5 linked regions of the Homo sapiens genome follow. The protein of the gene in region 5 purifies or fractionates together with the protein of the main gene of each other region. This does not show direct contact. Each region holds a gene or a part of one and is shown on either strand. Other genes may lie near its edges. The genes, in order: AQR, GPATCH1, ISY1, YJU2B and CCDC12.

Region 1 (6,058 bases), on a different chromosome or scaffold from region 5:
CATTACTGGGAACTGGGCTACGGAAAAGATACATTAAACAAGTAAATATACAGATATAATTACAAATTGTGTAGGTCTGGAAGACAAAAGAACAGTACTTCAGTACTTTGAGATCAGTTTTAGATTGGGAAGTCACAGAAGGCCTAGATAAAGTGGCTTTTAAGCTGATATTTTAAGGATGAGAAAGAACCAACTAGACTAAAAGTGAAGAGAATAGCATGTGCAAAGGGCCTGAGGCAGGGAAGGTTTTGCCATTTCCAACAAACTGAAATGGGTCATTGTGGTTGAAGCTTAGTGAGTAAGGAGAAAGATAAAGTACAAGAGGAAGTCAGGGACTAGATTGAATATAGGTTCTTGGTAAATACATCCTTGCTGGCAATATTGAGGGATTTTTTTCACTTAAACAGTGGTGTGAAGGATTTGAAATAAGGAGTTGTATAAGTGCCTTAGAGGAGTCAAGACAGGAAGAGGAGGAACTAGTAAGGAGTTTGCTATCCGTAGTCATAGTGGTGGCTTGGATTTTTAGAGTGGTAGTGCTGGTAGAAATAAAGAAAAATGAATAGACTCAAGAGTTTTGAAGGTAAAATTGACATGCTCTGGTGATGGATTGAATGCCCAGGGGTGAGACTGAAGTGAATTGTTGTGATGGGTAGGATTCATATAGGAAAAAAAATTATCCCAAAATGCTACCAGAGTAAGAGTACCAAAGGGAAAGACTTCATATATAATTATAAATTGATGCTTTCTGATGTAGAAATAAAGAACTAAATTGAAAAGAACCAAACTGGCATTGCAATTCAAGAAATGATATACAAGATCTTTTCAATGTAAAGTTGTATATTTAGGCGGCTTTCCTGAAGTCAAATACTTGAATTGGAAATGCAGAGGCATAATGATAAGTAAGACCATGAAGTTTCTGTTTGAATAATGTGTATGTTGTTATTTTTATCTGTCTGAATAATTTGTATGTCGTTTTTATCAGAAATTATTTGGGGTTTTTTTGATGATTATGTTTATGATGGTAGTTGTTTGACTTTTAAGCTGTCTTTATGACAAGATTTCCTCTTTCTTAGTATGACAACATTTTGATGGAAGAGGCTGCTCAGATTCTGGAGATAGAAACTTTTATCCCTCTTCTTCTACAGGTAAGAAATATAAGATCTGAGGCAAAGAAAATAGAGTTCTAAGAATGCTGAGGACAGCATCAGAAAGTTGTACAGTTTGGGTGTGCTGATTGCCATAGTTATGTATTTTCCTTAACTTCATTATGTTTGGTATTCTATTTTAAGCCTGTAAACTTTCTTGAATCTATTCACTGGCTATTTAGTAGTTGTTTTGCTTCGAGAAGTACTATTTAAAATTTCATAGTCTATTTCTGTAGTTTTGAAAAGATTTAGTAATTTTAATCAAGAAAATTACATTGTTGTGCAGTTTGGTGGGAAGATGAGCTGTTTCTTCATTTCTTTTGTTATAATTGTTTGTAGAATTATTTTTTTCATTTTCACTGAGTGCATTGCTTTTCTTTATGCCTAAGTTTTTGAGCTAAATTGTGCTATTTAAGAATTTTTTTACTGTAAAATATTCTTTACTATTGAAGCATTAAAAACAAAATGTGGAATTCCCAACTTAAGGATAGAGACCACTCTAATATGCAGATAAATTGAGTTCCAGAAGTTGTTTTTATAAGTGAAGCTACTTGGAACTTGGAATGTATTCTATCAGGATATGTTTCAAGGAACTAGGAGACATATAGAGTAGGAAATTGAAGTAGTAGTGTAGATAATTAAAGAAGGTAGTTTTTACTGCTTTGGTGGGTTCAGAATTGGTCCTCAGCTAATTGTGAAACATGTTTATTTCGCATCTTTCCATTTCTCTTCTTGGGCTTCTGTTTCTTTCTGTGTGCTCGTTACCTAATGCCTGACCTAATCCTTCCAGCCTTCTTTGGATTACCCTGCCTATTAAAGTAGGGTAATTCCATGCTTGCCTTCTAAATACCTCCATTCTCCCTCACCCACTGTCACCCAGGAGCAATAACGTCCATAATTGGTTCACAAATTGTTCTGTAAATTTGCTAGACTCCTGTTTGTGGAGCTGGTAAAGTTTGGTAATTTGTAAGATAAGGAAGCTGTTTGATGAAGACTGAGTCTCTCGGGTAATAAATTGGAGACAAGAGGATAATAGAGTATTTTGCCATTTCCTTACTTTTCATTTCTAGAATCCTCAGGATGGATTTAGCCGACTAAAACGATGGATTATGATTGGCGATCATCACCAGTTACCTCCAGTTATTAAGAACATGGCCTTTCAAAAGTACTCAAACATGGAGCAGTCTCTCTTCACTCGCTTTGTTCGCGTTGGAGTTCCGACTGTTGACCTTGATGCTCAAGGGAGAGCCAGAGCAAGGTAAAAGAGACAGGAAAAAAAATCATTCCCATTTAAGGACATTTGTTCCATGATCCAAGTATTTGTGAATAGCTTTTGTGTAGACTATTAGCATTCTTGGCTATCCAGGAACTTGGCTATCCATAAATCCAAAAGCACTTTTGTCGACTTCTGCAAGAGATGTGAATGGACCAAATAATTTATTTCCTTCATTTCATTCATTAATATTAATTTAAGTAACTTATAATCTAAAGGCTTCTTTTCATTGTCCCTTCTCCTTTCTTCATGTCCCCAAAAGATATACAGTTAATATAATTTTAAAATCTAAAAATAAAGTGAACAAGAGGAGAACACACCAATTCTTACTTCATAAAGGATGCAGGCCCCATCTCATAGTTACCCCCAAATGTCCTCAATTTTTAGTCTTCCTTGATTTTTTAATTTAAGGGATAAAGATAGCATTGACCTCAGAGAGCGTAATAGAACTCTCATTTTTGTAGTACCTTCAGTCTTCTGACCCTTGGTTACTTGAAGTAGGGAAGCTAAGGTTGAAAGAGCATTATTGCTTAAAAGATGAGCCAAAATGGCTAACATGAAAATTTAAAAGAAGCACAGAAACAGAAACCTCCTTATGTATATTAAAAGAGATTTTACACTGCTAATATTTTCTGTTTGTGGGGGAATTTGTCTTTGGAAAGCTTGTGCAACCTCTACAACTGGCGATACAAGAATCTAGGAAACTTACCCCATGTGCAGCTCTTGCCAGAGTTTAGTACAGCAAATGCTGGCTTACTGTATGACTTCCAGCTCATTAATGTTGAAGATTTTCAAGGAGTGGGAGAATCTGAACCTAATCCTTACTTCTATCAGGTAAGAAAAAATAGGAAGCTTATAAGTTTATTTTGCATTTGCTGGCTGACATATGCCTAAATCAGTGATACTTAACCATTTGGCCGTTGAGAAAAGGAAAGTTGGAACCCCACCTTACACATAGCATATGAAAAATCGATTTCAGATTGATTAAAAATACATGCACTAAAGAAACTAAACAAACTAGAAACTACTAGAAGAAAATATTAATGAATATACAGTGTTGGAGTGAGAAAGGTCTTCCTAAGCTTGTTACAAAAGCAGAAATCATAAAGAAAAATAGCGATTGGAGAAAAGATTTATTTTCAGTATTTAAAATTTATTTCAATATTTAACAAACAAGTTGAATTCTGAATATATTTATAGAACTCATAAATTGTTTTAAAAAATCAAGACTAACAGGAAAATATGAATATGCAATTCATATTTTATAACAAGTATAAATCACTGAATTACATTTTCACTTCTATAACAATGCTCAGTGTTGGGATAGGTTTGGGGAAACTTTATTCTCATACAATGCTAGTAGGAAAATAATTTGGTGGACAAATTGTCAGCATGTATGAAAAGCAATGTTCTCACATCTAGGAATTTATCCTAAAAAAATAATTGGGCAAGTTTGGAAAGACTTGTATGCTTCATGTTCATCACTGCAAATTATTCTGGAAATGAGAAACAACCCAAATATCTGTCAGTAGGGATTAATTGCATTATTACATATTCCATATAAAAGAAATACTAGATAGCCACTAAGAATGATAACATTGTATTTACTAACAGGAAGAATGTTTATGCTATATTAAGTGGAAAAAAGTTGCAAAGTATATCTACAGTATCTCATTTTAAAAAGGAGCTGCAATACATACATATAGAAATACATACAGATAATCTATACAAAATGACCTGGCAGCATATACATCAAAATATAGTCTTTGGTTGGTAGCATTTGGGGTTATTTTAATTTTTTTCTTTTTTTCTCTCTCTCTTTACAGCAAAATATCCAATATAGGTTGTTATACAAATTAGAGATCTTGAGTTATTCATGAAAAAGCATCATTTATCATCAGCTTAAATGTGTATGCATAGATGTAACTCATGCAGATCTTATTGTCCCTCCAAATATTTGGTTATATTAAATCAAGTTACTCTATTTGTGTACTTAATGCCTGAGAACAGATGTGACCTTTAAATGATAACTTTAAAAATATTAGAACCTAGTTCAAATCAGTGATGTTTCCTAATAGCCACCTTAGAAATTAATTATTCTATCAGTAATCAACTGATGTTTTCATTACATATTGGTTTTTTGGAATTTCTTCTTTGAGTCAGTTTCATTGCCTGAGTCATACTGTAGTATTGATTGAAACATTTTTATCCAGATTGGTTACCTGTTTTTCTTATTCATTAAGCCTAACTCTAGATGAGTTTTTAGCGATTCAAGAAATAAATATATTTTCAGATGATGATTTGCCACTATTAAATATATTTCTGGAGAGTTGAAAACACTGTCCCCCAAAATAAGAATACTATGCATTTAAGTGATAACATTTGAAGAATTAGTGTCGAGAGGGAAAGACTAGGTGGATAAATGAATAAAAGTCACTAATTTGAAGGGGACTTGACTCATTTGGAGCGAGTTCTAAAATGTTTGGTCACAATACAGTTCATGTTGTTTTATTGTTAATGCTTCATGTCTAACCTTTGGGCAAAGTACCAAATTGGGCAGTGTTAAAGAACTAGAAAACTTAAATGAACTTGTAACTCAAGCTGTGCGTCACAAAGAACCAGAATATAAATGATATTTTTAGAAGTCTTCCAGTAATCTTTCGGTTGCCTTTGCATGAAATCCAGCTTCCTTTTTTTTTTTTTTTAAATATTGTGTTTATATTCTTATTTTACTTTCTTCTTTCATCTAGTACTTTGGATTTAGTCTCTACTGAACTGGACCAAAGAGCTTTGTGTGTGGTTCCTCACCTTTAAGTTGAATAAGCCTTAGTTTTAAGCTCCTTTCTAGTCTGTAATTTAACAGTAAACCAGACTGACCAATTTGCGGTCACATCCTCATCCCACCTAAAGTGATCTAGTAGAAGTGACAACCATTACGCAGAGAACAGAAACAAAGCATACAAAAAACATTAAGAAACATGAGGAAGGAGGAAAAGCACTGTGCAAAAATTGAGTCAATTATAATACTGCTAGGTGTATTTGCTATTAAACTGGGTATTGTATTGGCTTCTTAGTTACTTTGTTCCTTTATAGTTTTGTGTCTGTGTAACTACAGTTGTGGCACATTGTATAGAATTTTTTTTTTTTTTTTTTTTGGAGATGAGATCTCACTTTGTCACCAGGCTGGAGTGCAGAGGCACGATTGAAGCTCGCCACAACCTCTGCCTCCCAAGCTTAAGCGATCCCCCCACCTCAGTCTCCAGAGTAGCTGAGACTATAGGCATGCACCACCATGCCCAGCTAATTTTTGTATTTTTAGTAGAGACAGGGTTTCACCATGTTGTCCAGGCTGGTCTCAAACTCCTGGACTCAAGTGATCTGTCTGCCTTGGCCTCCCCAAGTGCTGGGATTACAGATGTGAGCTACCATGCCTGGCCAGAATAGTATTAATCTATATTGTGATTGTTATGGTCTTAGGAATATTAAGCCTTTAAGTTGGTAAGTTTTATTTTAGGATTGTTCCATGTATTGCAAATTAAAAGTTTGTATTTATCACTGTTAATGTAGCATAAAATTATCCCTCAGTTTTATGAAAGGTACTCACTTATCCAAGTTACTAAGTCTTCACTTCTTGCAGTGT
Region 2 (6,058 bases), on a different chromosome or scaffold from region 5:
TGAGACAAGCCTTCTTAGGCTCAAAGTCTAAGTGAAAAAGGGGGTTTTGCGTAAAGGATCTTGCACTGTCATTGCACGGAGAGATTAAGAACTCCAGCCACTAGCTGTGCTGCTGGGGCTCTCAGAGGCTGGAGAGCTGTTAGGAATTACAGTGACTTCTCCCACCACCCCTCCAGACCTTATAGCCTCGCCTCTGTCTGCCTCCTTCTACCCTCACTTTCTGTGTATCTCCTTGTGCTCCTGGGCTTGTGGCCTGATATGGCAGCCTTAGACCTTCAGGGATTCCCAGGCCACATGCTTAGCAAAGACTGTCTAGAGTCCCTGTGATCCCATCGTAAAGGCCCAGGAGAAAGGTCATCTGATTGACTTCCCCAGTTCAGGTGTGCACCCCAGTGCAGCCTGCTGTGGCTGGAATGGCAGGGTCACGCCAGATGTAATGTGGGTGAGGGCAAGGGCCCAGGCAAGACAGGCCTAGGAACTGAGCAGGAACTCAGAAGCCGCTTATTTCATATTCTTTGTTAATGTTATTTTGAAAAGTTCATTTTCAATGCCTTGCTATCCTAGATTATCTGTTGGTTTCGAATTGCTAAGAAAAATGGGTTGGAAAGAAGGACAAGGAGTTGGTCCTCGAGTAAAGAGACGGCCACGCCGACAGAAACCTGGTGTGTATGTTAATTGATTAACTGTTATCACTGCTGCAGCGTACTTTTTTTTTTTTTTTGAGACAGGGTCTTGCTCTGTCGCCCAGGCTGGAGTGCAGTGGTGCGATCCCGGCATACTGCAGCCTTGACCTCCCGGGCTCAAGTGATCCTTCCACGTTAGCCCCGCAAGTAGCTGGGACCACAGGCATGTGCCACTGCGCCAGGCTAATTTTTTGTATTTTTTGTAGAGACGGGGTTTTGCCATGTTGCCCAGGCCCAGGCTGAGGATTGCCTGAGCAAATTCCAATAAACGAAATAGCTGGGCCCAGTGGTATGTGTGTCTTCTAAGGCTTTTTATGTGTAATGCATGACAGCTTCCAGAAAGGCTGTGCTAGTTTATGCTTCTGCCAGCAGCATGTGAGAGTTCATGTTTCCTACCCTCCCCCAAGCTGTCACAGTTTAACATTATTACTTGTTCCTTATTTCTTGCCCTGAGTCTCCCCAGCCAGACTGTAAGTGACTCTTTGAGGGTAACAGTCATTTCTTTTGGGTTCCTTATGCTGTGGGGCAGTATTGGTTACTCATTGAGCACATTACTGCTAGGTAGGGCAGGTGCTGGTAGAAAATGATTCCTGGCTGGGTGCAGTGACTCATACCCATAATCCTGGCACTTTGGGATGCTGAGGTGAGATTATCTTTGAGCCCAGGTGTTTGAGACCAGCCTGGGCAACACGGTGAAACCCTGCCTCTACCAAATATACCAAAATTAGCCAGGTGTGGTGGAGCGCACCTGTAGTCCCAGCTACGACTCAGGAGAGTGAGGTGGGAGGATGGCTTTAGTCCAGAAGGTTGAGGCTACAGTGAGCTATGATCATGCCACTGTACTTCAGCCTGGGTGACAGGGCGAGACCCTGTTTCTAAAACAATTCCCAGTTATCTTCCTCTCACCGTAATGCTGTAGCACATTTTATAAATGTACCCATGTACCTCTGAAGAGTTATCAGTGAGGTTTTTTTTTTTTTTTTTTTTTTTGAGATGGAGTTTCGCTCTTGTTGCCCAGGCTGAAGTACAATGCGCGATCTCGGCTCACTGCAACCTCTGCTTCCCGGTTCAAGCGATTCTCCTGCCTCAGCCTCCTGAGTAGCTGGGATTACAGGCTTGCGCCACCATGCCTGGCTATTTTTTTTGTATTTTTTGTAGAGACGGGGTTTCTCCATGTTGGTCAGGCTGGTCTCCAACTCCCGACCTTGTGATCCACCCCGCCTCAGCCTCCCAAAGTACTGGGATTACAGGCATGAGCCGCTGCGCCCAGCCTTTTTTTTTTTAAATTTTTTGTGGAGGCGGAATCTCACTATGTTACCCAGGCTGGTCTTGAACTCCTGGGCTCAAGCGATCCTCTCACCTCAGCCTCCCAGAGTGCTGGGATTACAGGTGTGATCCACCGCGCCCGGCCTGGTCGGGGTTTTCTATTTGTAGTCACTCATGACTATTGCATTTGAAATCTCTTTTCTAGATCCTGGAGTCAAAATCTATGGCTGTGCATTACCCCCTGGAAGCTCGGAAGGATCTGAGGTATTGCATGGTGTGACTGACCTTCACTTTGGTACAACAGCACCTGTTTCTGTATGACTGTGAAATTTGGTTGGAGACAATTTTAGAAATCAGATCCAATAACTATACAGTTAAATACTCATACCCTAAAGCTATCCTCATTATATCAGCATACATATTCAGCAACATGCCAGCACCACAGATACCCAGGTCTGTTCAGCTTCATAAAATGGAGTTGGTGTTAGCATCCTTTGTGCCAGAAAGTGATTTAGTCATTTATAACAGCACCAATGAAAGTTTGCTAATTGTTCTGTGTGGCATTAATCACTGCGTTTTCAATTAGTATTTTGTGGGTTTACTTTGCATCCTTCAGTGACTCACCTTAATTCCACTTTAAACGGAAATAGGGTGAAGATGATGACTACTTGCCTGATAATGTGACCTTTGCACCCAAAGATGTCACACCTGTGGATTTCACACCTAAAGATAATGTGCATGGTCTAGCTTACAAGGGCCTGGATCCCCACCAGGCACTGTTTGGAACTTCGGGAGAACATTTTAATCTTTTCAGTGGTGGTTCTGAGAGAGCTGGCGATCTTGGAGAAATTGGACTGAATAAAGGAAGAAAATTGGGAATTTCAGGCCAGGTAAAATTATTTTCTATTTTATAAAGGGGGAGTCATTGATAAATGAGTCTACTTTCTTTCTTTCTTCTTTTTAGAGGTTCTTTATTTTCTTTTTTTTTCCCCCTAATCCTCAAGTGGAATCAGGTCAAAGATTCTTTCTTAAAATGCATTTTTAAAATGGTGACTTTGCCATTTCATTATTACCATTTCTGTTTTTTTTTGAGACGGGGTTTCGCTCTGTTACCCAGGCTGGAGTGCAGTGGTGCGATCTTGGCTTACTGCAACCTCTGTCTCCTGGGTTCAAGTGATTCTCCTGCCTCAGCCTCCTGAATAGCTGGGATTATAGGCATGTGCCACCATGCCCCACTAATTTTTGTATTTTTAGTAGAGACGGGGTTTCACCATGTTGGCCAGGCTGGTCTCGAACTCCTGACTTCAGATGATCCACCTGCCTCGGCCTCCCAAAGTGCTAGGATTACAGGCATGAGCCACTGCGCCTGGCCACCTTTTCTTTCTTTCTTTCTTTCTTTTTTTTTTGAGACAGAGTTTGACTCTTGTTGCCCAGGCTGGAGTGCAATGGCGCGATCTCGGCTCACCGCAACCTCCACCTCCCGGGTTGAAGCGATTCTCCTGCCTCAGCCACCTGACTAGCTGAGATTACAGGCATGCGCCACCACCCCGGCTAATTTTGTATTTTTAGTAGAGATGGGGTTTCTCCATGTTGGTCAGGCTGGTCTTGAACTCCTGACCTCAGGTGATCCACCCGCCTCGGCCTCCCAAAGTGCTGGGATTACAGGCGTGAGCCACTGCGCCCGGCCCACCTTTTCTTTTTATAAACGTGTTTTTTTTTCAGTCTTTTAAACAAAAATGCTACTTGTTAGAGGCTCCTTTCCGCAGAGAGTAGGAGTTCTTCCAGCGGGCAGTAGAGTAGCAGCGGCCCTTAGACCCCAGCCACCAGCGTTGGCCCAGGCCGCATTGATCAGTTGATGAACATTTCTTCCTTTCTCCTCTTGGAAGCCACATTTCCACCCCTGCACTGCTGCTTGGCTTTGTTCTCCACTCCTCTTCCTGTGCTGGGACCTGGAGCCATGGCTGTTGTGGGGACTGGAGGGCAGTGTTGGCAGTAGGGACATGGCATTCACCTCTGGTCACTGTTTTCCAGAAAACTTGTGTGTGTGTTGGTCGATCTGGGACCCCCGTTCACTTCTCTCTTGGTGATCTTGAAGTGCTAACATGGTTTCCAATCACATCCTTAAAGTAGCTTTATCCCTGAAGATCCCAGACATACCCTAACACCTGTGCTCAGTTTGAAACCTTGTTTTTTTAAAGGCTTTTGGTGTAGGTGCCCTGGAAGAGGAAGATGATGATATCTATGCCACAGAAACTCTATCCAAGTATGACACTGTTCTGAAGGACGAGGAGCCTGGAGACGGACTCTATGGCTGGACAGCACCCAGGCAGTATAAAAACCAGAAAGGTAATTCGACAGCCACAAACCTAATGGCAGGACCAAGTGTCAGGGTATCAGGAAGGAGGGGCTGCAAGAGCGATACAGGAGCACCAGCCTCTGTTGTTGGTCAAAGTCACGGTAAGAAACAAAACAAAGAAGCGAGGCCCAGCATGGGAAGTGAAACAAATGCAGGATTCAGACCTGGCCAAGGCCAAAGCCAGCTGTCAAGGTGGGGCCCAGGTGGGAGGGAGGGAGAGGTCTGTAATCAGGGAAAGAGGAATGCCTGGACCAGTGACCACATGGCTGGTCAGAGCTGGCAGTGGGTCAAAGGGAAGCACCCAGAGCTCGAGGAACTGGGCAGGTGGCCAAAGGAGGCCAACACATGCAGCAGGTCAGAAGGTCAAGCCAGGGGACCAGGAGGCAGGTACACCAACAGCCTGCAGCAAGATGGAGCTGGGCGCCCAGTCCGTCTTCTCCCTTGAGTCCCTGGCTCTGAGGAGGCTCTTGTTGGGATAAGAGGCTGACATCTCTCAACACAACTTTAACTTCATGCTGTGTTGAAATTTCAAGGTGAATCAGATCCTGTGGTTTGAAGTCACATTTCAGTTGTTTCCAGAAAAGGTGCAGGGCCAGACAGTGTAGAGTCGGTATTAGCAGCATGTGATTTGGAGTCAGTCAGACCTGGGTTTGGATGCCAGCTCTCCATTGCCCAGCTTTGTGACCTTAGGCAAGGCTCATAACCTCTCTGGGCATTGGAGTCCACATTTGTAAAGTGAGGATAAAATCCACTCCAGAGGTGGTTGTGAGGATTAAGTGGCATAACTCAGTGTCTGGCAAAGCACCTGTCCCAAAGACTGAAGAAGTGGCACCTACTATTCTTTGGTTATCATACAGTCATGTGTCACTTGACTGGGATGGTATGACAGGGAACCCAGGGTTTTACACAGGACACTGGAAGGGCATGTGTACCCAGTGTTAGGAGACTTAACCTCCGGGTGGTCAGTGGGCTGCTAGTACTTACTTCCTTTTTTTTTTCCTTCCAATGTTTTTCTTTTTTTTTCCCCTGAGTCATTTAGCTTCTGAGCCTTCTTCCTTTTGCCTCCCTATAGTTTCTGATTTCTGTCCCCAAACTATGGATTATTTTTATATAACTTAAATGAAGATATATTAATATATCATAATATACTATTTAATTTTAATACTATATTATAATCAATATACCATTATATATTGTATATGATTTATATTTTATATAATTAATATATCAATACTATTGGTATATTATGTAACATACCAATACATTATTACATAGTAATGTATTGATCTATTTTAATTATTCATTATTTATTAAAAGTGGTGGGAGTATGAAATTGATAATATCCTATATCTGTTAATATAAATGATATTTAATATACAACATATTAATAACAATATATCAATCCTTTAATAATTAATGATATGTAATGACATATATTTAAGTCCGCCTGCTGAACCACATCTTTCACTTTTCCCTCGTGCACCAGCTTTGCCCCCAGCTGATTGGTTCTCACTCCTTCCACTGAGCTCCGAGCCTGTCCTTGTCCCTCTCTGCTGTGGCCTCTCTCCCCCAGCTTCCTCTCTCCCCCCCTGCAGGGTCACAGCATCTGTAGTTTTGACTGTATGATTTTCTATTCGGTGAATCTATCTTTATTTTACCTAGTCTCCACGGTTGATTTTTTACATTTTTAAATTTTTTTTTTTTGAGACAGAGTCTCACTCTGTCACCCAGGCTGGAGAGCAGTGGCATGATC
Region 3 (6,058 bases), about 82 Mb from region 5:
TCCAGTTGTAACAATCAAAAATTTCTTCAGGGCTGGGCGCAGTGGCTCAAGCCTGTAATCCCAGCACTACGGGAGGGTGAGGTGGGCAGGTCATGAGGTCAGGAGATCGAGACCATCCTGGCTAACATGGTGAAACCCCGTCTCTACTAAAAATACAAAAAAAAATTAGCTGGGCATGGTGGTGGGCGCCTGTAGGCCCAGCTACTCAGGAGGCTGAGGCAGGAGATTCGCTTGAACCCGGGAGGCAGAGGCTGCGGTGAGCCAAGATCATGCCACTGCACTCCAGTGTGGGCAACAGAGCAAGACTCTGTCTCAAAACAAAACAAAACAAAACAAAATGAACTATTTCTCGGCCAGGCACTGTGGCTTACACCTGTAATCCTAGCACTTTGGAAGGCCGAGGAGGGTGGATCCCCTGAGGTCAGGAATTGAAGACCAGCCTGTTCAACATGGTGAAACCCTGTCTCTACTAAAAAATTACAAAAATTTGGCTGGGCGCCATGGCTCACGCCTGTAATCCCAGCACTTTGGGAGGCCGAGGCGGGCGGATCACGAGGTCAGGAGATCGAGACCATCCTGGCTAACACGGTGAAACCCCATCTCTACTAAAAATACAAAAGATCAGCCAGGCGAGGGGGTGGGCGCCTGTAGTCCCAGCTACGCGGGAGGCTGAGGCAGGAGAATGGCGTGAACCCCGGGGGGCGGAGCCTGCAGTGAGCTGAGATGGCGCCACTGCACTCCAGCCTGGGTGACAGAGCGAGACTCTGTCTCAAAAAAAAAAAAAAAAAAAAAAATTAGCCAGGTATGATGGAGGGTGCCTGTAATCCCAGCTACTCGGGAGGCTGAGGCAGGAGAAATTGCTTGAACCCAGGGAGGTGAACCCAGGGAGAAATTGCTTGAACCCAGTGCAGTGAGCCGAGAACTCGCCACTGCACTCTAGCCTGGGTGACAGAGCAAGACTCCATCTCAAAAAAAAAAAAAAAAAAAAAAAAGGACCACTTCTCTTAAGTGAGCTTTGGCAGTTTGTGTCTTGTAAGGAATTGACCTATTTCATCTAAGTTGTCAAATTTATGGGCATAACATTGTCTGTAATATTTCCTTATTATCCTTTTAATGTATATAGATTCTATAGTAATATTCCCAATTTGGTTCCTAATATTCTTAATTTGTGTATATTTTTTCTTGGTCAGTCTGACTAGAAGTTTATCAATTTTATTGATCTTTTTTTTTTTTTTGAGACAGAGTCTCGCTCTGTCTCCCAGGCTGGAGTGCAGTGGCGCGATCTCAGCTCACTGCAAGCTCCACCTCTTGGGTTCATGCCATTCTCCTGCCTCAGCCTCCCAAGTAGCTGGGATTACAGGCGCCTGCCACCACATCCAGCTAATTTTTTGTATTTTTAGTAAAGACGGGGTTTCACCGTGTTAGCCAGGATGGTCTCGATCTCCTGACCTCGTCATCCGCCCGCCTCGGCCTCCCAAAGTGCTGGGATTACAGGCGTGAGCCACCACGCCCAGCAATTTTATTGATCTTTTCAAAGAACCAGCTGTTGGTCTGTTTTCTCTATTCATCTTGTTTTCAATGCTATTGATTTCTTATCTTTACTATTTCCTTCCTTCTGCTTGCTTTGGGTTTAATTTGCTCTTCTTTTCTAATTTCACAGGGTAGAAGCTTAGATCACTGATTTGAAAACTTTCATAATTTTCTATTATTTCAGTGCTATATATGTATTTTTTGTTTGTTTGTTTGTTTGTTTGTTTTGAGATGGAGTCCTGGAGTGCAGTGGCACGATCTTGGCTCACTACAACCTCCGCCTCCCGGGTTCAAGCGATTCTCCTGCTTCAGCCTCCTGAGTAGCTGGGATTACAGGCACATGACACCACACCCAGCTAATATTTGTATTTTTAGTAGAGACAGGGTTTCACCATGTTGGCCAGGATAGTCTCTTATCTCCTAACCTCGTGATCCACCCGCCTCGGCCTCCCAAAGTGCTGGGATTACAGGTGTGAGCCACCGCACCAGGCCAGTGCTATACATTTTTATCTAAGCACTATATCCCATAAATTTTTTCATCCCCTAAATTTTGACATTACGTTTTCACTCTAATTAAATTCAAAATATCTTCTAATTTCTTTGCTGTTTCCTCTCAGACACATGAATTATTTACAAATATGTTGTTTAATTTCCAAATATTTAGGAATTTTTCAGATATGAATCTGTTGTTATAATCAGAGAAAATACTCTGTGTAATTTCAATTTTTTTTTTTTTTGAGATGGAGTTTCACTCTTGTTGCTGAAGCTGGAATGCAATAGTGTGATCTTGGCTCACTGTAACCTCCGCCCGTTAGGTTCAAGCGATTCTCCTGCCTCAGCCTCCCAAGTAGCTGGGATTACAAGCATGCGCTACCACGTCCAGCCAATTTTGTATTTTCAGTAGAGGTGGGGTTTCTCCATGTTGGTCAGGCTGGTCTCAAACCCCAGACCTTAGGTGATCCTCCCTCCTCGGCCTCCCAAAGTGCTGGGATTACAGGCGTGAGCTACTGCGCCCGGCCTCAAATATTTTAAATTTGCTAACATTTGTTCTGCAGCCCAGAATATGTTTTATTTTGGTGAATGTTCCACGTGCTCTTAAAAAAGACCATGTATTAGGCCGGGCATAGTGGCTCATACCTATAATCCCAGCACTTTGGGAGGCTGAGGCGGGCGAATTGCAAGGTCAGGAGATCAAGACCATCCTGGCTAACATGGTGAAACCCTGTCTCTACTGAAAGTACAAAAAAATTAGCCGGGCGTGGTTGTGGGCACCTGTAGTCCCAGCTATTCGGGAGGCTGAGGCAGGAGAATGGCGTGAACCCAGGAGGCTGAGCTTGCAGTGAGCCGAGATCGCACCACTGCACTCCAGCCTGGGTGACAGAGTGAGACTCTGTCTCAAAAAAAAAAAAAAAAAATGACGTATTCTTTATTGTTAGGTACAGTGTTGTGAGACAGAGTATTCTACAACTTTCAACTACATCAAACTGACTGATCGTATTGATTGGCTCTTCTATGTCCTTACTGATTTACTATCTACTTGCTCTATTGATTATTTTGAAAGGAGTATTGAAGTCCTCAAGTCTAATTGTGGATTTGAGAATCAAGCACTTTAAAGGAACAAGTTTGCTTACCATTCTGAATCTGAGCCACTTTTTTAGAGATCTCTCCAATGATCTATTAAAAAAAAGTAATACATTTTAATAATTTTTGAATATGTTAGAAAGCACAGAAAAACTATAATTCAAAATTAGTATTTAAAAATACTTAGACTTTTGGTCTAACAGTCATTTAGATAATAAGAAGAAATGAGAGACTTGTTACTTCTACTGAAATCAGATTTACCCAGAACATACCTGTCGTCTCCACTTCTCAGCTTTAGGCAGTTCAGTACATTCTGAGGCCAGAAAGGGTCTTCGTTCCTAAGGAGAAAAAAATAACACATTTCCATTATACTATTTACAAGTTTCAAACAACATTCAGAACTGATTCAGGCCTTAAGCCTAAATCATCTAATGGCCTAAAAACATTTGAAGTTTTCATTCCAGATGATCCTCATCAAGCCTTAAACCTCATTCTACAATCTCTCCTTAGGAAAAACATTGATTGCATTGTATTTAATATTGGAAAGAACTTAACTGTCCTGCAATAGAGAGACAGCCAAACTAGGTTATAGCTATTTCATGGCATATTTATAGTACCTTAAGAAACAATGTCTATCAGTGTTTAAAACAAACATACATAAATATGGGTGTATTCATATACATGTGCGTATATAAAATTAAAAAAAAAATCCAAAGAATGGTATATATTATCTCTAATTTGGGTGAGTCTCTAAGAAATGAAATAATTTACCGGTTTCAGCTTACAGCTGTTCTCCACATCATACTCCAGTCCCTATTCAATATTAGAGCTGGAGTAATAAAGGACCCAGTCATCAGGCTGGGCACGGCGGTTCATCTCTGTAATTCCCACTTTGGGAGGTCAAGGCAGGCAGATTGCCTGAGGCCTGGAGTTTGAGACCAGTCTGGCCAACATGGTGAAACCCCATCTCTACTAAAAATACAAAAAAATTAGCTGGGTGTGGTGATATGTGCCTGTAATTCCAGCTACTCAGGAGGCTGAGGCAGGGGAATTGCTTGAACCAGGGAGTTGGAGGTTACAGTGAGCCAAGATCACGCCACTGCACTCCAGCCTGAGCGACAGAGCGTCCATCTCAAAAAAAAAAAAAAAAAAAAAAGGGCCGGGCCCAGTCATCATAATACAGAAGAAACTGAAAAACAAGCAGCCAGATCCATCACCCTGCCTCAGCTATGGGGAGGTATTGGAATTCAAGTGTACAGACTCTCAAGAGCGTCAGCAGGTACAGATAAGAAATAGGAAATTCTGAAGTTTGAAGTCTGTTGACCTGGAGTGCAGCAGCGCGCTCTCGGTGCACTGCAACCTCCGTCTCCAGGGCTCAAGTGATTCTTCTGCCTCAGCCTCAAGTAGCTGGGATTACAGGTGCCTGCCACCATGCCCAGCTAATTTTTGTATTTTTAGTAGAGATGGGGTTTCACCATGTTAGCCAGGCTGGCCTCAAACTCCTGTCCTCAAGTGATCCACCCCCCTCAGCCTCTCAAAGTGCTGGGATTACAGGCGTGAGTCACTGCACCCTACTTTTTTTTTTTTTTTTGACAGGTTCTCACTGTGTCACCCAGGCTGGAGTGCAGTGGCATGATCATGGCTCCCTGCAGTGTAAGACTCCTGCATTCAAGTGATTCTCCTGCCTCAGCCTCCCCAGTAGCTGGGACTACAGGCAGGCGCCACCATGCCTGGCTAGGCTAATCTTTGTATTTTTTGTAAAGAAGGGATTTTGCCATGTTGCCCAGACTGGTCTCAAACTCCTAGACTCAAGTGATCCACCCACCTCAGCCTCCCCAAGTATTGGGATTACAGGCATGAGCCACTGCACCCAGCCTGCATTTATTCTTGATACTTTACAATTCATGAGGAAGATTTACACCAACCTTCACTTTTCCCTCTTCCAGCTGAGCCTGGCGAAATCTTGCTAAGGCCGTCCTACCAGCGATATAAAAGATAAAAGACTCCATTAGATCCTGCTCATACAGACTTCTCATTACCCATGTTCCTGTATGGGGTAGATCTGCTTATGACCATATTTAATGTCATTCATATACAAATATTGTAATTAAGAAACCACAGAATAGTTAGGGATTTCCATGTTCTCAGGAGTAGGAATTATGAGGCAATTTGTATTCCTGAACACCCAAGAATCTATTTTACTTACACTACACATAAGGACTGTGGGAAACTCTACTTATCAGACCACTGTGATAAGCAATACATCCAGGTGTTAAAAGACTAACATCATGGTGTGTTCCCTGGCTGTCACTCTCACAACCCCTGCACCAACCACAGGTGAACAAATGTTCATCCAGTGTTTAAGTTCTGGAAACTGTGAGAAAACACATAAATGGAGAAAACAAATGGGCAAAAACAGGAATGTTTTTGCATATGTAAGAACATAACATATGTAAAGAAAGAAACAGCTTCTCAAAAGGCTCAGATACCAAAAAGAGGAAATACACAAAGAGTTACATGGTGGTTTTTAAGTTACAAAAAATTTACAGCCAAAAACAAGTTGATACTTACATGGCCTTTTCTGCATTTCGGGCCTGGAAAGAGAGAAAAGAGAAGAAAAATGTCCATGTTTAAAATATATTTTTTTCTTGCCCTTTACTTTTTAGTGAAAAGTTTTACAAGAATACAATCACAAGCAAACCACTTGAAGTACTATATGAACAACAATAAACAAAAATCAAAAGATGTCCAAATCCTGTGACCAAGGCTGCTCCTCCCTCTACTTAAAATCTTTACTCCTCCACTGACCCTAACACCTTGTATCTGGCTAACTTGCATTATTCTTCCTTCAAATTTTACTTGTGTCATGACCACCCAGAACATTATTCTGTGACCCCTTCTTCCCAGTTAGGCTGGTGTCCTCTATCAAGGATTATACTTACCATGG
Region 4 (6,058 bases), on a different chromosome or scaffold from region 5:
AAAAAAAAAAGACATACTCAAGCCTGGGTAATTTATAAAGGAAAGAGGTTTAATTGACTCACAGTTCAGCATGGCTGGGGAGGCCTCAGGAAACTTAACAATCATGGCAGAAGGGGAAGCAAACACATCCTTCTTCACGTGGCAGCAGCAAGAATGAGCAAGAGGAAAAGCTCCTTGTAAAACCATGAGGTCTCTCGAGAACTCATTCGCTGTCATGAGAACAGCATGATTCGCCCCCATGATTCGATTCAGTTACCTCCCACCAGGTCCCTCCCATGACACGTGGGGATTATGGGAACTACAATTCAAGATGAGATTTCGCCTGTAATCCCAGCACTTTGGGAGGCTGAGGTGGGTGCATCACTTGATGTCAGGAGTTCAAGACCAGCCTGGCCAACATGGTGAAACCCCATCTCTACTAAAAATACAAAAAATTAGCTGGGCGTGGTGGTGCATGCCTGTAATCCTAGCTACTCAGGAGGCTGAGGCAGGAGAATCGCCTGAACTCGGGAAACGGAGGTTACAGTGAGTCAAGATCGCACCACTGCACTCCAGCATGGGTGACAGAGCAAGACTCCATCTCTAAAAATTAATAGTAAAATAAAAAATCAGAAAAAATTTTTTTGAATGAGATTTGGGTAGGGACACAGCCAAACCATATCAGCCTCTCTCTGAGTCATGTCTCTGTTCTGCTTTGCAGGGTGAAAGGAAAGGGGTCAACAAGTACTATCCTCCAGACTTCAACCCTGAGAAGGTAAGCAGGCTCTCCGCTCCAGGTCCACAGTAGCAAAAAGACCCACGTCATCCCCTCTTGGGGTTAGAGCCACTGCTGCGGAAGGATGGGTGGCCCCCAAGGTCTTTTTGTCTTCTGCATGTCACCTGAGTCTCGAGGCTGTCTTCACTTTTGGGTGATAACTGTGGCTCTCCTCAGGGACCTGTAACTCCATGTCCACACTATACTAGAGTATAGTGTGTTTACAGCAGGGGCCCAGGATAAGGCAGAGCGCACAGATGAAGGGTCAGATCCCATGGCTTCCCCAGCTCCAGCACCTGTGGCGTCCTGGTTGTCCCCTCTGCCTGGAATCTCTTCCTCCATTTCACCATACTCTCACTTCCTTAAGTGCTTTTCTCACAGAGGTCCTCCCTGACCACTGTCTCGTTCTCTGTTGCATTGCTGAGCACTTTATATAATCTCATAGCCCTTATAACTCCCTCACTTATTCATTTATTTGCGTCTTGTCCATCTCCCCCGCTAGAACATTCTCTCCCTGAAGGCAGAGATGTTCATCTATCTTATTGTGGCTGTGTCCCCACACAGTAGGTGCTCAGTAAGGGCCCAAGTGTCCCAGCTGCCTCGTCCTGAGTATAGGATTTAGCCTCTCTATGCCAAAGTTTCTCCATACGTCAGAAGGGGGAAATAAAATGAGCTGACCTCACAGAATCATTGAGGGATAAATCCTAGCTACTCAGGAGGCTGAGGTGGGAGGATTGCTTGAGCCCAGGAGGTGGAGACTGCAGTGAGTCATAATCATACCACTGCACCCCAGCCTGGGCTACAGAGCCAGACCCTGCCTCAAAAAAAAAAAAAAAAAAAGCCGGCGCCATGGCTCACGCCTCTAATCCCAGCACTTTGGGAGGCCAAGGCAGGTGGATCACCAGGTCGAGAGTTTAAGACCATCCTGGCCAACATGGTGAAACTTGATCTCTACTAAAAATACAAAAATTAGCTGGGCGTAGTGGCCCACACCTGTAGTCCCAGCTACTTGGGAGACTGAGACAGGAGAATCGCTTGAACCCGGAAGGCGGAGGTTGCAGTGAGCCGAGATCACGCCACTGCACTCCAGCCTAGTGACAGAGCGAGACTCTGTCTCAAAAAAAAAAAAAAAAAAATAAGGTGATGCACATGAAGTCCCCAGCGAATGTTTGCCAGTCTTGTCACCTCACCTCATCTTCCCCATAAAACCTGGAAGTAATAATGACCATTATACGTAGTTGACAGACAAGGGAAACAGAGGCTCGGGAAGGCAAAACGTGAGGTCACTCGCCCAGGGTCCCCTGGCTCTTTCAGCTCATAAATGGGAACAGGGCTGGGCGCAGTAGCTCACACCCGGAATCCCAGCACTTTGGGAGGCCGAGGCAAGTGGATCACCTGAGGTCAGGAGTTGGAGACCAGCCTGGGTGACATGGTGAAACCCCGTCTTTACTACAAATACAAAAAAAATAGCCGGGCGTGGTGGCAGGCGCCTGTAATCCCAGCTACTTAGGAGCCTGAGGCAGGAGAATCACTTGAACCCGGGAGGCAGAGGTTGCAGTGAGCCAAGGTCATGCCATTGCACTCCAGCCTGGGCAACAAGAGCAAAACTCCATCTCAAAAAATAAATAAATAAATAAGAGAGGGACTATTCAAACTCACGTTCCTGGTTCCAAGCCTACATGTTCCAGTAAGACCTGGATGCCCCCTATTGCTATGAACACCCGTCCTGCAGGACATAAGAATCAAGGCCTCTCCCACCTGTGAGACACTTGTCCCAAAGCAGTGGGGGTGGCAGAAAATTGTGAGCTCCTCCAGCTCAGCAGCACTAATCCGCTCCTCATCCTCTCCACACAGCATGGCTCTCTCAACCGATACCACAACAGCCACCCGCTTCGGGAGCGGGCTCGGAAGCTGTCACAGGGCATCCTCATCATCCGGTAAGGCCCAGCATCACCTGAGGACCCCACCGTCCTGCCCCATTCCTTCAGTCTCAAGGAGAGTTCAGTGCCCTCATTGGCCCAGTGCTGCAGGGTCTTCATTCCATAAAGCAGAAAGTCACCGTATCAGTCAGTTATTGCCGTGTGACAAAACAATAAGCATTTATTATTGCTCACATGTCTGCAGCTCAGCAAAATATCTCTGCTGGGCTTGGAAGAGCTTGGCTGGGCTGGGCTAGGCTGGCCTGATCTGGGCTGGGCTCCCATGTGTTTCAGAGTTGGCTGGCTGGGGACTGGCTGGTTTAGCAGGGACTTGACCTGTACAGCTGGGCTCTGCTCCGTGTTGTATCTCAACCTGTAGCAGGCCAGCCTGGACTTGATCACATAGGACTCTCAAAAAAGACAGTGATCGTAGTTGGGCACAGTGGGTCACGCCTGTAAACCCAGCACTTTGGGAGGGTGAGGCAGGTGGATCACTTGAGACCAAGAGTTCGAGAGCAGCCTGGCCAACACAGTGAAACCCTGTCTCTACTGAAAATAGAAAAAATTAGGCTGGGTGCGGTGGCTCACACCTGTAATCCCAGCTCCTCGGGAGGCTGAGGCAGGAGAATCACTTGAACTAGGGAGCTGGAGGTTGCAGTGAGCCAAGACCATGCCACTGTACTGCAGCCTGGCAACAGAGCGAGACTCCATCTCAAAAAAAAAAAAAAAATTCGCCGGAATTGGTGGCGCACACCTATAATCCCAGCTACTTGGGAGGCTGAGGCATAAGAATTGCTTGAACCCAGGAGGCAGAGGTTGCAGTGAGCCAGGATCGCACCACTGCACTCTAGCATGGGGAACAGAGCAAGACTCTGTCTCAAAAAAAAAAAGTCGCAGCAGCACCCAAAGGCGGCTGTCCCTGGACCTGGTCAGTCTGCTTTCTAGCAGGCAGGAAGTTCCTGCTCAGTTACAATGGTTGTGATTCTTTTTCTTCCATATATCCATTTCCTGTGTAATGTGAGTGCAGCAACTCCCGTTAACAGGGCAGTCTAATACCCCACCCCTCAAATCACAACCGCGGCCAGAGTCGCAGGTGTGGAGACCCAGGGAGTGTCCAAGTGGACAAGTGCAAGTAAGATGCTGTCTGTCTTTGCAGATTCGAAATGCCATATAACATCTGGTGCGATGGCTGCAAGAACCACATCGGCATGGGTGAGCCTCTGCCCACCCTCCATTCAGTCCTGCAAACATCAGACCCCCTAACTGCTGGATGCCGCCGGGGTGGGGGTGGGAGGGTCCTGATCAGGAATGAGGGAGGAGACGGGCACCCGAGTGACTGGCTGGCCATGGAAGCCCCTTTGCAGAGGGATTAGGAAGCCAGGCTCTGGCTTCCAATCCCGTCTCTAACTCCTCCTAGTTGGGGAACCCTCAGCAAGTGACAGTGAGCCTCTTTGTACCTCATTTTACCCATCTGCAAAATTCAGATGGCAATGAAATTACCACCCCCGCCTGACCCCCTTCCAGGTGTTCGTTACAATGCAGAAAAGAAGAAGGTGGGCAATTACTACACAACCCCGATCTACAGGTAAGGGCGGCTTGGTGGCATCTTGGGAACAGGTGGGGTGGCCACAGGGCGAGGGGGCTACAAAGAGCCTGAGTTGCGGGGGGAACCCATTCCCTGCAGGACTCCTGGAAATCGCCCTGGTTGGTGAATCAGGGCACACCCCACCCCCGCAACCCTCCATGGCTCCCACCTTCCTCAGTAAAAGCCCAAGTCCTCCCCCTGGCTCACAAGGCACCACACACTCTGCCTGTCCTTTCTTCACCCTAACCTCCTCCTGCTGTCCCCCTCCCTGGCCTCCTCGTTGTCCCTCACACACCCCAGGGACACACCCACCTCTGTGCTTCCACCTGGAATGCTCTTCCCCAGGTAGCTCCAAGGCTCCTCCCTCACCCGGGGTTTCTGCTCAAACAGCACCCCTCAGAGACACCTTTTCTAAAGTGAGACTTGACACTGGTTGCTTGTGCCCTTGCTATCAAGGTGGGCCCTGCTGGGACGTCAGCCTTTCCATGAGCAAGTTGGCTTTTCCACTACTCAGCAATTTCCCCAGCAGCTGGCACTGAGCCTGCCACAGAGCAGCCTGTCTTGGGCGGGTTTGTTGAATAAATGAACTAGTGGACAAATGAATGAACAAATGAATGAACAGAATGAACAAATGATAAGTGAATTAACAAATGGATGGATGAGCAAATGAATGTATGAATTACTTTAACAAATGAATCAGTGAACCAACAAACAAATGCACTAATGAATGAACAAATGAATTAACGAATAAATGAACCAAAAAAATGGATGAGGGAATGAATGAATGAACAAACAGCTGAATGAACAAATGAATAAGCCAACTGCAGCCCCACTGACAGAAGGTCCGTTCTGGGTGCCCGGATGTGCCCCTTTTTGCCCGTGGCTCTACACGGCACACAGTGGGTGCTCAGTGAATTTTTGTCAAATGACACCATTGGGTGGAAGGAAGCAGGCAGAGGCGACAGGGCTGTCCTGGTGCACAGCCACAGCCTCCTGACTCCTGCCCACCGCTCCCTCCCAGGTTCCGGATGAAATGCCACCTCTGTGTCAACTACATCGAGATGCAGACGGACCCCGCCAACTGCGACTACGTGATCGTGAGTGGCGCCCAGCGCAAGGAGGAGCGCTGGGACATGGCGGACAATGAGCAGGTGCTGACCACAGGTGAGCGCCACCCACTTACCTGCCTGGGGGCCCTGGCCCTGAGTCTGCGCTGGGGCCCCCAAAGCCCAGCCGAGCTCTGATCGTTGCAGAGCATGAGAAGAAGCAGAAGCTGGAGACGGACGCCATGTTCCGGCTGGAGCATGGCGAGGCCGACCGCAGCACACTCAAGAAGGCGCTGCCCACACTGAGCCACATCCAGGAGGCCCAGAGCGCCTGGAAGGACGACTTCGCCCTCAACAGCATGCTGCGGAGAAGGTTCCGGGTGAGGGGGGCTCCAGCCCGGGGTCAGAGAGGATGCATGGTGGACCAAGGCCCGGGTCCAGCCCTCCCCCCACCACATCCTAGCTTTGAGCAGGCCACTGTACCCTCTGAGCCTCAGTTTCCCCATCTGCTACATGGTGACCATGCCCTGTCTTAATCCATTCTGGCTACTATAATAAAAAATACCATAGACAGAAACAGTAGAAATTTGGCTGGGCACAGTGACTCACGCCTGTAATCCAGCACATTGGGAGGATCGCTTGAGGCCAGGAGTTCAAGATCAGCCTGGGCAACATAGTGAGACACCACCCCCCCCCTCCCCCAGCATCTCTAAATAAATAAATAATAGAAATTAATTTTTTTTTTGTTTTGAGA
Region 5 (6,058 bases):
ACCTGATGCCACTTATTAGTGAGAGGAGCAAGGCAAGAGGCTGAGGAGAGCTGGGATGTCCAAGGCTGAGGAGGGGAAGTAATGTCTCCTGGATTCCAGGATTCCAGCCCATGCAAGACCCCCTGGGGGAAGGGGATTCTGTAGAGGACACAGCACTGCCTGAAGCAGCATCTTGTAGGTCAGCCAGTTCCCGTTGACACGCAGAAAGACAGTACTGCTGGGGTTCATTTTCTGGGAAAGCCAGGCAGAGCCTGAGGAAGCTTCATGGGAAGGCAGCATGGAACTTGAGCTGAGCCACGGAGGATGGGGAAGTGGGAGAAGGTCATCGAGGTAGCTGGAAAGGAGAGTGTTCCCAGGGAGCATTTTAGAGGTGGGAACATTCAGGTGCATAGAGGTGAGAGTGGAGATGCTCCAGGGAGTTTGACAGCAAGCACTTGGCAGTGATACAGGGGCAGGGGTACAGTCTGAAAGTGCTGGACTGGGGTACTCTGGTAGCCAAGTTTTGCAAGAGCCAGGGTTTCCAGCAGGGATGGTAGCCAGCCTGGGCACACTTTTCTGTATTGTATTTGAACCTCATTTCCTGATGCTCATCCAGAAGTTCCTGGCTGGGTGAGTAGGTGAACAGTTCAAGGCTGTGTGGATGAAACTCTGGCATCTCTTTACAGTGCTGTCCGGCAGGGCAGTGTGAGGCCACTCTGTCCTCCTTTGACCTCTTTCTTCTTCAGCAGCCAAATGGAGGCTCTCTAAAGGTGATGATTAACTTGGCATAAACATGCCAAGCTTTCCTGAGCGATTGCCCTGAATTGGGCTGTCTCTTGCTGCTCTGAGACAGGGAGACTGGCTGTCTGGCTGACCAGCCCTTGGGGCTGAGGTCTGGCTGTCAAGTTGCAGGTTCCAGGCAACCAGCAATTCCTGGTTGTCACCTGGCTCTAGAGATTAGAGCAGCAGTGTTGCTCACTAGAACTTTGTGCAGTGATAGTGTTCTTTAATCTGCACTGTCTAGTACTGTAGCCATGGGCCACCTGTGACTTTCAAGCCCTTGAAATGTGGCTACCGGCCAGGCACAGTGGCTCATGCCTGTTATCCAGGGGTGTCCAATCTTCTGGCTTCCCTGGGCCACAATGGAAGAAGAATTGTCTTGGGCCACACATAATATGCAGTAACACTAATGATAGCTGATGAGCTTTAAAAAAAAAATCACAAAAAATATCTCATAATGTTTTAGGAAAGTTTACGAATTTGTGTTGGGCTGCATTTGAAGTGGTCCTGGGCCTTGGTCTGCGGGTTGGACAAGCTTGTTATAATCCCAGCATTTTGGGAGGTGGAGGCAGGAAGATCACTTGAGTCCAGGAGTTTGAGACCAGCCTGGGCAATATGACAAATCCCCATCTCCACAAAAAATACAAAAAATTAACCTGGAATGGTGTCGTGCACTTATAGTTCCAGCTACTTGGGAGACTGAGCAGGGAGAATTGCTTCAGCCTGGTAGGGGCAGAGGTTGCAATGAGCTGAGATCACGTCACTGCACCCCAGCCCGGGCAACAGTGTGAGACCCTGTCTCAAAAAAAAAAAAAAAAAAAGAAATATGGCTACTGCGACATTTAATTTTAGTTAGTTTACATTTAAACAGCCACACTTGACTCGTGATTGCCTTATTCGACGGTGCATCTCTGGAGGACTTGCTCCCTTCAGCCTGACTTACAAGAAACTGTGTCTCTACCTGAGCTCCAGTTGTTGAGCGCTAAGGGGCAAGTGGAAACCCAGATGACCATCACATCAGCCTTGGGAGCCCAAAGCTGGGCAGAGGGCTTGGAAGTTGGCCATATTCATGGCTGGTATCTCCATCAGATGCTGATTTGGGGCCATCTGTGTATGTACCCTGTGGAGTTAAGTGCTGGTGATTCAGAGTGGTATAGTTGTGATTTACACACTCAAGAAATGGGAGTGCGGGCCAGGTGTGGTGTCTCACGCCTGTAATCCCAGTACTTTGGGAGGCCAAAGTGGGCAGATCGCTTGAGCTCAGGAGTTCAAGACCAGCATGGGCAACATAACAAGACACCATCTCTACAAATATAAGTAAACAAAATTAGCCGGGCATGGTGGCCCGCTCCTGCAGTCCCAGCTATTCGGGAGGCTGAGGTGGGAGGATTAAAAAACAAACAGAAAGAAAAAAATGCACAGTGCAGAGAGTGGGAGCAATGCCAAGGTAGAAGGCATGCACTAGTACTCTCTGACTTGGGAGTACTAGGGAGGGTCCCTGGCCAGGTTGGGGGAGGGTAAAAGAGGGAACCAGAGGGAGGGGCTAGCAAGTCTTGCTGGAGGAACAGAGGCAGTGGGTGAGAGGCCTAGTATGCTGGGTGAGGAGTCAGACTTGTCCGTGTCCTGATCATGTCTCAAGAAGTTGCCTCTATCTACATCCCATGTGGCCACATCCCCAGGCCCAGCAGCCTGGTTGCAAAGTCAGCCAAGGCGATCACTGCCGCCTGTATTGACAGCTTTTGGCAGGTTGGCAGTCATAACATTTGCGTGGCAGTTGTGGCAGAATCGTGTTCCATCCCTGAAGCAGGACTTTGAAGCAGGGTGTATTGCTTCATCCCTGTCTGATAGACCAGGAAACCCTGGGCTGAAGGAACATCCCACAGTCGTGCTTTGAGTTGTTGCTGACCCTAGATTGTCCCTTAGGCTCTGGCCTTCTATCCCTCTACACCTCTCACCCCCAGGTGCTTGGGAATAAGTACCTCCCGGGAAGGAGCCTCCACCCATCACACATATAAACTGTAACCAGGCTGCCAGGTGGAGGCCTAGTGGTGGAGTGGAGAGAATGGACTTTGGAGACAGATCTGATTTAAACCTCTGCTCCATTAATCGCATCTATGGTACTCAGAGCAAGCCTTGAAAAATCTGAGCCTCTCTCTTGTCTATAAAATCGAGATACAGCTTCTGAACTCATCAGTAGCTAGGAGAACAGAGAAAGATGCTGTCTATGAAGTGTCTAGCTCGAGATCTTGCACACAGGCCTTTTATAAACGTGGATGCCTGTCCTTTCTTCTTTACCCTCTTGTAAGTGGGGACATCCAGGTGGTCCTGCAGCCTTCTCCGCTGGGTGACAGTGGGTGGAACTGGCCCGGTTCCAGTGGAAGCAAAGAGGTCCTTCTCCTGCACCCTGGCTTTACTCATCCTAGCCCTAATTTTTTGAAGATGGAGTGTTAGTGCAAAGTGTTAGATTAAGAAGAAAATGGATTTGCAGTCACAGCCGAGGTGGAGTGTGAGTGCCCGTTCTTCCTAAGGACTCAGCTTTTCTGCCCAAGCTCTCAGACTCCAAGGTTGTGGAGGCAGTGAGAGGGAGAATCTTCTGGGTGGGAGATTTGGGGTTCCCAACACATACCTATGGTGAGCCAGCATTTCCTTCTGAGGCCCTCAATATGTTCACGTATGAAATGATGGTGTTGGATTTATCTGAGTTTCTCAGACCTACCTGTTCGTTGGGTTGTCTTGAGAGACAATTTGCAGTCCTTTTTTCTGGCCCTACCTCAGACCTATTGTGGTCTTGGTATATAGCCTATAAATTCATGCATTCTTAAAGTTCCCCAGGTGATTCTGATGAATTTTTCTGGACATCTCTGATCAGTCCCTGGCATTCTCTCATTGGAAGAAGGATACTTTTTTTTCCCTTGGAACCTTAGCTGCCCATGCTCACTGCAGGAACTCTGCAGCTAGCCACTAATAAGTATTTATTGAGTACCAGCTGTATGACAGGCCCTGGGGATACAGCTATGAACAAGACTTCCTCCTTGCCTCAAGGGGCTTCTATGGAAGGAGTGGGAATACTTAGAAACAAGGAACATGGTGTCCCTGTTTATGTGTCCCAGGAACTTGGGAATGTGGTGTGTGTGTTGGGGAGAGGCTGTGCAGCTGCCCAGGCTGGGAAGACCACCACCTGGGAGTTCTGAGACGGGGATGGAGGAGTGAGATGCCAAGATCTAGGGAAGAGCATTCCAAGCTGAGCAAGACTAGCTTGGCATGTTTGAGGAGTAGGAGTAGAGTGAACAGTGGGAGGTATGGAAGGGGGATGAGGGTGGAGAGGGCCTGGGAGGCTGGGCTAGTTAGAAGGGGGCCTTGCAGACCACCAAGGCTGGACCTCAGGCTAAGGGGGTTGGGGAACCACTGGAGGTCTGAGCAAAGCTGACATGCCCTTGGATGACTGTGTGTGGAGGTAGGAGGCAGCTGCAGGAGCCCAGGTGTGAGGCAGTGCGCACAGACAGGGTTCCTGAGATGGCAAAGTACAGGGGAGAGGGGCTTTGAAGGGGAAGGCAAGAGTCTGGCTTTGGCCACATTAAGCCAGAGATGACTGTTAGACAGGTAAGCGAAGAGAGACATAAGCAGGCATCTGGACTAGAAACAGATACAGGATATCAAGCCCTGGGGCTAGACGAGGCCCTCTGGTGACAGAGCTTAGACCACAGAGACAGAGGACTGGGAGATCATTCTGTGCCCTGAGGCTCGCTCTGCAGGTATTTAGCAGGAGTTAGAAGAATCCAAGGAAACTTGGTGGGGTGGGGCGGCATGAGGACAGTGGGGCTGAGAGAAGCCAGGCGAAGACTGGGGATGGGTTTTGGCAAGACAAGGTGATAGGTGAGCTTGGTCCAGCTGTTTCAGGGAAGTGTGTGGTGCCAGTGGAATCCAGGCCAGCTGGGTTGAGGTGCAGCATGCTGGCCAAAGCCTTCCTGTAAATTAAGCCTCCTTTCCACTGCTTGAAGTCCTCACTGGACCCCAGCCGGGACATCCATCCCTCCTCTCAGGAGGGTAGCGCCAGTCTGAGGCAGTGCCCTTATAGCCTTGCTGTCTGAACTCACCTGGTGTTTGGATGCTGGCAGCCTTCTTGCTAGTGCTCAGGTCTTCATATTGCCACTCTAGCAACTCTAGCCCTTTTCTTTCGTTCTTTCTTTCTTTCTTTCTTTTTTTTTTTGAGACAGAGTCTCACTCTGTCGCCCAGGCTGGGGTGCAGTGGCGCAGTCTCAGCTCACTGCAGCCTCTGCCCCGCCCCGTGCTCAAGCCGTTCTCCTGCCTCAGCCACCTGAGTAGCTGGGATTATAGGTGTGTGTCACCGCGCCCGGCTAATTTTTGTATTTTTAGTAGAGATGGGGTTTCGCCATGTTGTCCAGGCTGGTCTCAAACTCCTGGTCTCAAGTCGTCTCCCTGCTTTGGCCTCCCAAAGTGTTGGGATTATAGGCGTGAGCCACCGTGCCCAGCCCGCTTTCTTTCTTTCTTTCTTTTTTCAACCTGGGAGCACAGATTCAAGTTGCCGTAAATGTACACTCCCCCCTCCCCTGTCCTTTCTGTCCCTGCACGTAGGTCCTGAGGGCTGCACTGCAGCTCCTACAATATGACCACTGCTTCTGGGTCAGGCTGGCCGTTTCTCTCATGATTCCCTGCTCTCTGGACAGGTTGCTTTGCCCACCTGGCTCCGCCACCCTGCTCACCTTGGGATGTGTAGATAGGTAAGTCTCTTCACATCCTTTTTAGCTGGAAGATGGCCACAGTACCTCCTCCCTCCCAGGATAAGGGTTAAGTGAGATGGTGTGTGCAGAAGGGAGCTGAGAGGTGGGAAGTGTGATGTGTGCATTTATTCTTTCTCCTATACTCTTATTTTACCTCTGGTTGAGGGCCCCTTTAACTTGTACCTGAGACACCACAGATGTGGAGAAGTAAGGGACCAAACACAATCACACAGGGCCAATCCCTTGTCCTCTGGAGATGGAGCCAGAGGGATGGGCCAGGGAGCCCACCGCCTCCTGGCCAAGTTTGGGGGTGCTCTTCCTCTGGGATAGAATTGGTGCTGCCCTCATCCCTTGGAGCTTTGCAAGGAGGGGCTCTGCAGTGAGCTACAGGGAAGAGAATGGGACCCCGTTCAGTTTGGTCTGATATGCTGGGGAGAAACACCTGGCCTGGGCGAAGGGTGAGCCTCTCTCTGGATTTCCCTCAGAGGGCACGGTTTCCATCGAGGCAGATGGGTGGCTATTCAGGATCCTTCACGGTTTAGCTCACCTGTGGTGGCTGA

Evidence for each region.
Region 1: the proteins of CCDC12 (region 5) and AQR purify together in Homo sapiens (affinity purification with mass spectrometry; one large-scale study listed by BioGRID and IntAct). This does not show direct contact.
Region 2: the proteins of CCDC12 (region 5) and GPATCH1 purify together in Homo sapiens (affinity purification with mass spectrometry; one large-scale study listed by BioGRID and IntAct). This does not show direct contact.
Region 3: the proteins of CCDC12 (region 5) and ISY1 purify together in Homo sapiens (affinity purification with mass spectrometry; one large-scale study listed by BioGRID). This does not show direct contact.
Region 4: the proteins of CCDC12 (region 5) and YJU2B purify together in Homo sapiens (co-immunoprecipitation; one large-scale study listed by IntAct). This does not show direct contact.

Annotation. Positions count from the first base shown.
Region 1 is NC_000015.10:34,871,022-34,877,079, reverse strand, and holds part of AQR (RNA helicase aquarius), read left to right. Parts: intron 1-1,073; coding exon 1,074-1,145; intron 1,146-2,215; coding exon 2,216-2,403; intron 2,404-3,080; coding exon 3,081-3,252; intron 3,253-6,058.
Region 2 is NC_000019.10:33,093,608-33,099,665, forward strand, and holds part of GPATCH1 (G patch domain-containing protein 1), read left to right. Parts: intron 1-564; coding exon 565-662; intron 663-2,154; coding exon 2,155-2,213; intron 2,214-2,599; coding exon 2,600-2,839; intron 2,840-4,147; coding exon 4,148-4,295; intron 4,296-6,058.
Region 3 is NC_000003.12:129,153,472-129,159,529, forward strand, and holds part of ISY1 (pre-mRNA-splicing factor ISY1 homolog), read right to left. Parts: intron 5,706-6,058; coding exon 5,683-5,705; intron 5,089-5,682; coding exon 5,037-5,088; intron 3,450-5,036; coding exon 3,384-3,449; intron 3,205-3,383; coding exon 3,162-3,204; intron 1-3,161. Other genes in the region: ISY1-RAB43 protein, read right to left, coding at 3,162-3,204, 3,384-3,449, 5,037-5,088, 5,683-5,705. UniProt on the Homo sapiens protein: Component of the spliceosome C complex required for the selective processing of microRNAs during embryonic stem cell differentiation. Required for the biogenesis of all miRNAs from the pri-miR-17-92 primary transcript except miR-92a.
Region 4 is NC_000019.10:13,753,589-13,759,646, forward strand, and holds part of YJU2B (probable splicing factor YJU2B), read left to right. Parts: intron 1-700; coding exon 701-754; intron 755-2,608; coding exon 2,609-2,691; intron 2,692-3,829; coding exon 3,830-3,885; intron 3,886-4,197; coding exon 4,198-4,258; intron 4,259-5,279; coding exon 5,280-5,422; exon of another isoform or gene 5,423-5,511; coding exon 5,512-5,684; intron 5,685-6,058. UniProt on the Homo sapiens protein: May be involved in mRNA splicing.
Region 5 is NC_000003.12:46,965,424-46,971,481, reverse strand, and holds part of CCDC12 (coiled-coil domain-containing protein 12), read left to right. Parts: intron 1-6,058.